Linked DNA regions of Homo sapiens. The protein of the gene in region 1 interacts with the protein of each later gene in a pairwise test. Each region holds a gene or a part of one and is shown on either strand. Other genes may lie near its edges.

Region 1 (3,500 bases):
TAAAGAAAATGTGGTATGTATAATATACACACACACACACCACGGAATACTACTCAGCCATAAAAAATAATGAAATAATGGCATTCACAGCAACCTGGATGGAGGTGGAGACCATTATTCTAAGTAAAGTAACTCAGGAATGGAAAACCAAACATTGTAAGTTGTCACTCATAAATGGGAACTAAGCTATGAGGATGCAAAGGCATAGAATGATACAATGGACTTTGGGAACTTGAAGTAAAGGGTGGGAGGGGGTGAGGGATAAATGACTACACATTGGGTACTGTGTACACTGCTTGGGTGAGGGGTGCACCCAAATCTCAAAAATCATTACCAAAAAACATATCCATGTAACCCAACACCACCTGTTCCCCAAAAGCCTATTGAAATAAAAAAAAAAGAAGAAAAAGTAACTCAAAATGGATCAAAGACCTAAATATAAGACCTAAAACTATAAAATTCTTAGAACATTGAACAAAAGAGCTTCATGACATTATATTTGGCAATGATTTCTTGGATGTGACAACAAAGGCAGAGTCACTGAAAGAAAATATTGGCAAATTAGATTTGATGAAAAATTTTTAAATTTGTGCACCAGAAGACCCTATCAACAGTAAAAGGCAAGCCACAGAATGGGTGAAAATACAGGCAAATCGTATTATCTGATAAGAGATTAGTATCCAAAATATATAGAAAATTCCTAAAACTCAAACAAAAAAAATCAACCTGATTCAACAATGTGCAAAAGACTCAAATACACATTTCTCCTAAGATACACAAATGGCCAATAAACAGATGAAAAGATACTCAACATCTCTAATCATTAGCAAAACAAATCAAGACTACAATGAGATGCTACCTTATACCCATAACAATGGTTACCATCAAAATTCAGAAAATTGTTAAGTGTTGAAGAGAATGTGGAGAAACTGGAACCCTTGTATACTATTGGTATGAAAGTAAAATGTTATTTCTGCTATGGAAAACAGTATGAAAATTCCTCAAAAAATTAAAAATAGAATTACCATATGATCCAGCAATTCCACTTCTGGATATATACCCAATGAGAGCAGGGTTTCAAGAAAGTATTTGTACACTCATGGTCATTGCAGCAGTATTCACAAGAGCTAAAATGTGAAGCAAACCACGTGTTCACTGAGGATGAATGAACAAGCAAAATGTATTTACATACAATGGAATAGTATTCAGCCTTGAAAAGTAAGGAAATTCTGATATATGCTACAAAATGAATGAATCTTGAGGACATTTTGCTAAATGAAATAAGCCAATCACAAAAGGACAAATAATGCACAATTCCACCTACATGAAGTACTTTAAAGTAGTGAAAAATCAGAGACAGAGTAGGCTTTTGGTTTCCAGGGCCTGTGGAAAGGTGAGAATGGAGAGCTATCGTTTAAACGGATATAGAGCTTCAGTTTTACAAAATAAAGAGTTCTGGAGATAAACAGCGGTGATGGTTGCACAACAATATAAATGTAGTTAATACCACTGATCTATAAACTTAAAAATGATTATGATGGTAAACTTTGTATGTATTTTACCAAAATTTTAAAAAGTTTGGAAAAAAAAAGGTATCAATGATAATGATGTTGATTTCCTCCGAATTAACCTGTATGTAAAGTAATCCCAGCTAAAACACAGGAAGATTTTAAAAAATTATATAACTTGGCAAAAAGTATTCTAAAACTTTGGACCAATAAACATGTGGGTGTAACTGGGAAATTCTGGAAAGGGGCATTGTGGGAAGGGGTGTACTAATCTGATCTGATCAATTTTAAGTTATAAAAAAGATTTTAAAAAATTAATGTGGCAAAAATTATTCTAAATGTTATCTGGAAAAATAGGTGAGTATCACTGGAAAACTCTTGAAAGGGGAACTGGGGAAGGGGAAGAGACAAAGTTTACTACATATAAAAATATATTACCTTAAAAAAGGTAATGAAAACAATTTGGTATTTATGCTGAACAAACTCTCAGTCTGTTTAAAAAAATGCATTTGTTAATACTAAAGACAATGTGCTGAGAAACTGTTCTCTACATCAGACTGTCAGAAACTATGTTATTTGAAATTTTATAAAGTGAGAATGGAACATCCCACTCTCGCACTGATGGTAGATCATTATGAAACAGAAGCAACCTCACTTTGCAACTCAGAGCTTCAGATAAGGGGTTTCCAGACACAACATTCCACATGTATCGCGATTTTGTAGTCTCCAGGGAATCAGAATCCTGAGTCAGCTTCTCAGCCCAGGCCTGATGTTTATTAACCCTTGACACACAGTCTTGCCGTGCTTTAAGCTTATCAAATATTGTTGCGTTTAAACTTTATCCAAACTCCACCATTCTCCAAAATCCTATAATAACCCTGGTTCCTTCTTTAGAAATGCTGACATTTCCTCTGCTGTGCAAGTCTCCTTCACTGCAGCAAGCTAATTAACCTTTGTCAGCCTACAGATGTGTCCCTGGTGGTCTCTACCAGATGAATCTTATAAAGGGACTTCATCAGGTTGAAATAAAGACTCTATGGAAAACAAAAATTCATGTGGAAATTTAATACATAATAAACAGCATTTCAAATCAAGAAAAAGGTGGCTTATTGAAGAAATGGTATTGAATTAATTAATCTTTTGGGGAAAAAAAAACAAAACCAGCTGGATCCTTACTTTCTAGTAACAATTTCAAATGTTTCTAAGATTTCAGTATTTTAGAAAATGGAATTAAAACAAAACTGGAAGAAAATATATTTTTGCATTTTGATATTACGAATTGAGATCTCTCCCACACTCAGAAGCTGTGACTATTAAAACACTATGAGTTTATTCATTGGATAAACTTCTGGCAATGAAGTCGCTGGTTAAAGGGCATATTTCTTTATGAAATATATTTTTTTAATGTACAGCAAAAAGAACCAAAAAGTATCATAAATAATAAAAAAGATAGTTAACCAAATACAAAAACAGATAAAGAAAATAAAAGATTCACAGTAAAAAATGGTCAACGATGTTCAAATTTCACTCACAAAGGTAAATCAAATGAAGAGATATTATTTTTAACCTAACATATTGGCAAAACTTTTAAAGTTTATTAACAGCTGTTATTGACACAGATACAAGAAAACTGGTAGTCCTGTATTCTTTCTCATAATACATACTTTTACTGTCTTTTGGAAGGGCATTTCACAACATCTTTTTAAATTTTTAACTAATTATGCCTTGATATATCACTTCATGATCAGAAACTTATTTTACAGATATAATCATAGAAGTCAGCCAAGATGCTCGACAGCCATAACCATAAGACGTCTGTCTGTTGATGAGGAACCAGTTTTTTAAAAAAAAGATAGAGCCATAGCATAGAATAGTAGTAGCTGTTAAAAACAATGATCTACATGTGCTGATAGGGAAAATCTTTGTGCTTTTGACAAAGGTTACTTTTTATTGTTAATAAGGTATACTGGGTATTTTTTTAAACATCAGAAA
Region 2 (3,500 bases), on another chromosome or scaffold:
GAAGGCTCTAAACAAATATAAGTGACCGCTTATATCTGGATCCCTCTTGGGTTTAAACAATTTCTGTAATAGTTGGCCAGGACTGCGGTGATGGATTTGAATTCATCACTGTCATAATAACTCACTTCAATAGGTCTTAACCACATCATCATCATCTTTTTTTTTTTTTTGGAGACAAAGTCTTGCTCTGTCGCCAGGCTAGAGTGCAGTGGCACGATCTTGGCTCACTACAACCTCCACCTCCTGTGTTCAAGCAATTCTCCTGCCTCAGCCTCCTAAGTAGCTGGGAATACAGGCGTGTGCCACCACGCCCAGCTAATTTTTTGTATTTTTAGTAGAGATGGGGTTTCACCATGTTGCCTAGGATGGTCTCGATCTCTTGACCTCGTGATCTGCCCGCCTCAGCCTCCCAAAGTGCTGGGATTACAGGCGTGAGCCATGGTGCCTGGCCTAATCACATCATCTTCTATCTAGTTGTTCAAGCCAATCACCTGGGAGACATCTAAGAACTCTCCCTCCTTGTTGAATCCTGACATCGATGAACAAAACCTGTTGGTTGGTTTGGTTTCCTAACTCACTCTCCTTTTCTTTCCATTCCTACTGCCCCAGCCCTCAATTTTGCTTGATTTATGATAGTAGTCCCCTACTATTCTCCCTGACTGCAGTCTCAGCTCTTTCCTATCTAGTCTCACGTTATGGCAAGAATGACATTTTAACATAACCCCCTCCTCCAAACCCATTCTCAAGATATTTTCCCAGGTTCTATTGTCTGATGTATAAAATGGAACCTCCTCTACACGGCAGGCATATAGAGCCCTAAGTGCTGACTTTTACACTCTTGACTAACCCTTCTTTTGCCACTCCACTACAATTTATGCTGTACCATAATGTACCATGTGTGGTTTCCTGAAAAGGCTATATACACTTTCATGTCTCCGGGCCTTAGCATTCAGCTTTCCTGGTGCCTAAAGTGCTTTTTCCCTAGAGATCTGTATGGCCTGCTTGCTGATTTTCTTGACATTTCTTCTCACTTTTTACCTCCTCTGAGAGGCCCTCCCTGACCACTGTCTTCCCAGCTTCTGTGCTCTTCATCTTTTGTACCATTTCTACCTCTGACAGTATGCATACTTTTGTTGTTTACTGTCCGTCTCCCCCACTGAAACACAAACTCTGAGAGAGCAGGACCTTTGTTTTCTTATGTCTTAATCCCTAGTTCCCATAACAGTAGCTGGCACATGGGAAGCATTCAACCAACAATGGTTGAATGAAAAAATGTGTAGAATGTTCCCTCTGCCTGGAATGTCCTCCCCTGACTCATCACCCTGAAAAACTCTTATTCATCCACCTAGTCTTGGCTCAGATACAACCTCTGCCATGCAGCCTTCCCTGACTGTCCCACTGAAACTCAGGTGCACTTTATCCGAGCTCCAGCGTACTGTGCTGGCATCTCCACTGCAGCTGCCAGATTACTGACTAGACCGTTTGCCTGTCTCTCACTCACAACTAGAACTTTACCTCCTCTTTGAGGACAGGACTCTCTCTTCATTTGTGTGTCCCCAGCTAGTCCAGAGTAGGTGTTAAACAAATGCTTATGGAATGAATACATCAATTTTTAACAGAGCCCTCTGCAAAAGTACACCTGACCCACAAAGGGACTGTGTTCATAAACTGGGCTCCACTAACTCACTGGTTAGAACTTGGTGCTAAATTGACCGAACTCTCTAACACCCATACTAATAGTGACAAAGACACAGAAAGAGGAATAGTTCTTTTTGAAATGATAACTTACCCATAATCCTCTAAGGCACATCCCAGCATAAGAAAAGTCAGTCCAATAGCCCCACTGAAGGATAATGCCACGAGAGCTGTGAAAAATAAAGCCAAAAGTTAAAGTTCCCACAGTAGAGGTTGTCAGGCACTAGAGGGTTTGGGGAAATGGGGAGTGACTTCTAATAGGTCCAGAGTTTCTTTGGCGGATGAGTAAATTTTCTGGAATTAGATAGTAGTGATGGCTGCATAACCTTCTGAATATACTAAAAACCATGAAATCTTACACTTTAAGAATGTTAATTTTATGGTATGTGAATCATTTATCAATAAAAACATTTACTAAAATAAAAAAGAAAGAAAAAAAGGTCCCAAATTCAAGCAAATGTAGCAATTTACTCATTTTATTGAGGTTACATTTGACCCGTTACAGACTGCATTATGTGTGTCCCTTTCAAATTCACATGTTGAAACCTTCCCGGCTCCATCCCTCTCACCGTGAGATGCTATCAGGAGGTGGACCTTTGGGAGATAATTAGGTTCAGATGAGGTCATGAGGGTGGGGTCTCCACGATGGGATGAGTGCCCTTATAAGAAGAGAGAAAGTAGAGCACACACTCTCTCTGTGTTTCTCTCCCTCTGTTCTCCAATGTGAGAGCAGAAAGCAGGCCTGCAAACCAGGAAGCTGGCTCTCACCAGACACCAGATCTGACTGCACCACAATTTTGGACTTCCCAGTCTTCAGAACTGTGGAAACTAAATGTTTGTTGTTTAAGCCACCCAGTCTAAAATATATTTCTTATAGTAGCCCAAACTGATTAAGACAATGACCCATGTCTGCCACCTTGAAATCATAAAGTATACAAAGGTCTCAAGTAATTCCAGTACCTAACCCCTATCCAATGGATGAATTCCCTCTGTATTTGTCACCAGAGGGCAGCCAGTTGGTCCACATAACTCCAGTGAAGGAAAACTCACTACCTCCCAAGGCAAGTCATTTAATTCCAACAGCTTCTAAATGTTGAAAGCCCTCCTTCTTTAAATTATATCCAGAACTGCCTCCCTGTAATATATACCTTTGATCATTTTGCCTCCCCAAACCACAGTACTGCAAGTATTTGAAGATTGTTTTCATGTCTTTGTAGGAAACAATTCCCAACTAGTGTGCACTGAATAAAATATGTATTCCCTGTATCTATTGGACACTAGTCTCTGCGGGAGTAGGAACGTATTTGCCCTTGTTGTGCTGCTGAGTGAGAAACAGAGTATCAAGGTTGTTACAAAATCTTGAGCTCTGAGTCACAAACATGAGTCAAATCTTAACTCTGCCACCATCTGGTCTTATGACTTTGGGTAGAAGCTAATCCTCTGAACCTGATTTCTCACCTGTAAAATGGAAATAATGGTGCCACCTTATTGAGCTTATGGGAATTAAATGAGATAATCTATGTAAAGTGCTTGGCAAAAGGAGGTAGCCAAATAAATGCTGACTGACTCAGGTATCTACTCATTTTAGCAATGTTCTTTGATAAAGGTAGAAATCAAAAGCATAGGAGACTATCTTATCCAAATTTTCTTCTGAAAAAAGTCCATAATACTCATAATTAGTATTAAACTAATTAATTAAGCCAATGAACATTTTTGATTGCTTCCTTTTACTTGAGAGAAGATTTAGAGAGACTCTTTAATAGGAAGGTGCCAAAGTGCTTTTTAAAAAACATCTGAAAGTATAC

Evidence for each region. The genes of interacting proteins can lie anywhere in the genome.
Region 2: the proteins of C1GALT1 (region 1) and LEPROT interact in a two-hybrid assay, tested with the Homo sapiens proteins (one large-scale study listed by BioGRID).

Annotation. Positions count from the first base shown.
Region 1 is NC_000007.14:7,189,044-7,192,543, reverse strand, and holds part of C1GALT1 (glycoprotein-N-acetylgalactosamine 3-beta-galactosyltransferase 1), read right to left. Parts: intron 1-3,500. UniProt on the Homo sapiens protein: Glycosyltransferase that generates the core 1 O-glycan Gal-beta1-3GalNAc-alpha1-Ser/Thr (T antigen), which is a precursor for many extended O-glycans in glycoproteins.
Region 2 is NC_000001.11:65,423,668-65,427,167, reverse strand, and holds part of LEPROT (leptin receptor gene-related protein), read right to left. Parts: intron 1,866-3,500; coding exon 1,790-1,865; intron 1-1,789. UniProt on the Homo sapiens protein: Negatively regulates leptin receptor (LEPR) cell surface expression, and thus decreases response to leptin. Negatively regulates growth hormone (GH) receptor cell surface expression in liver.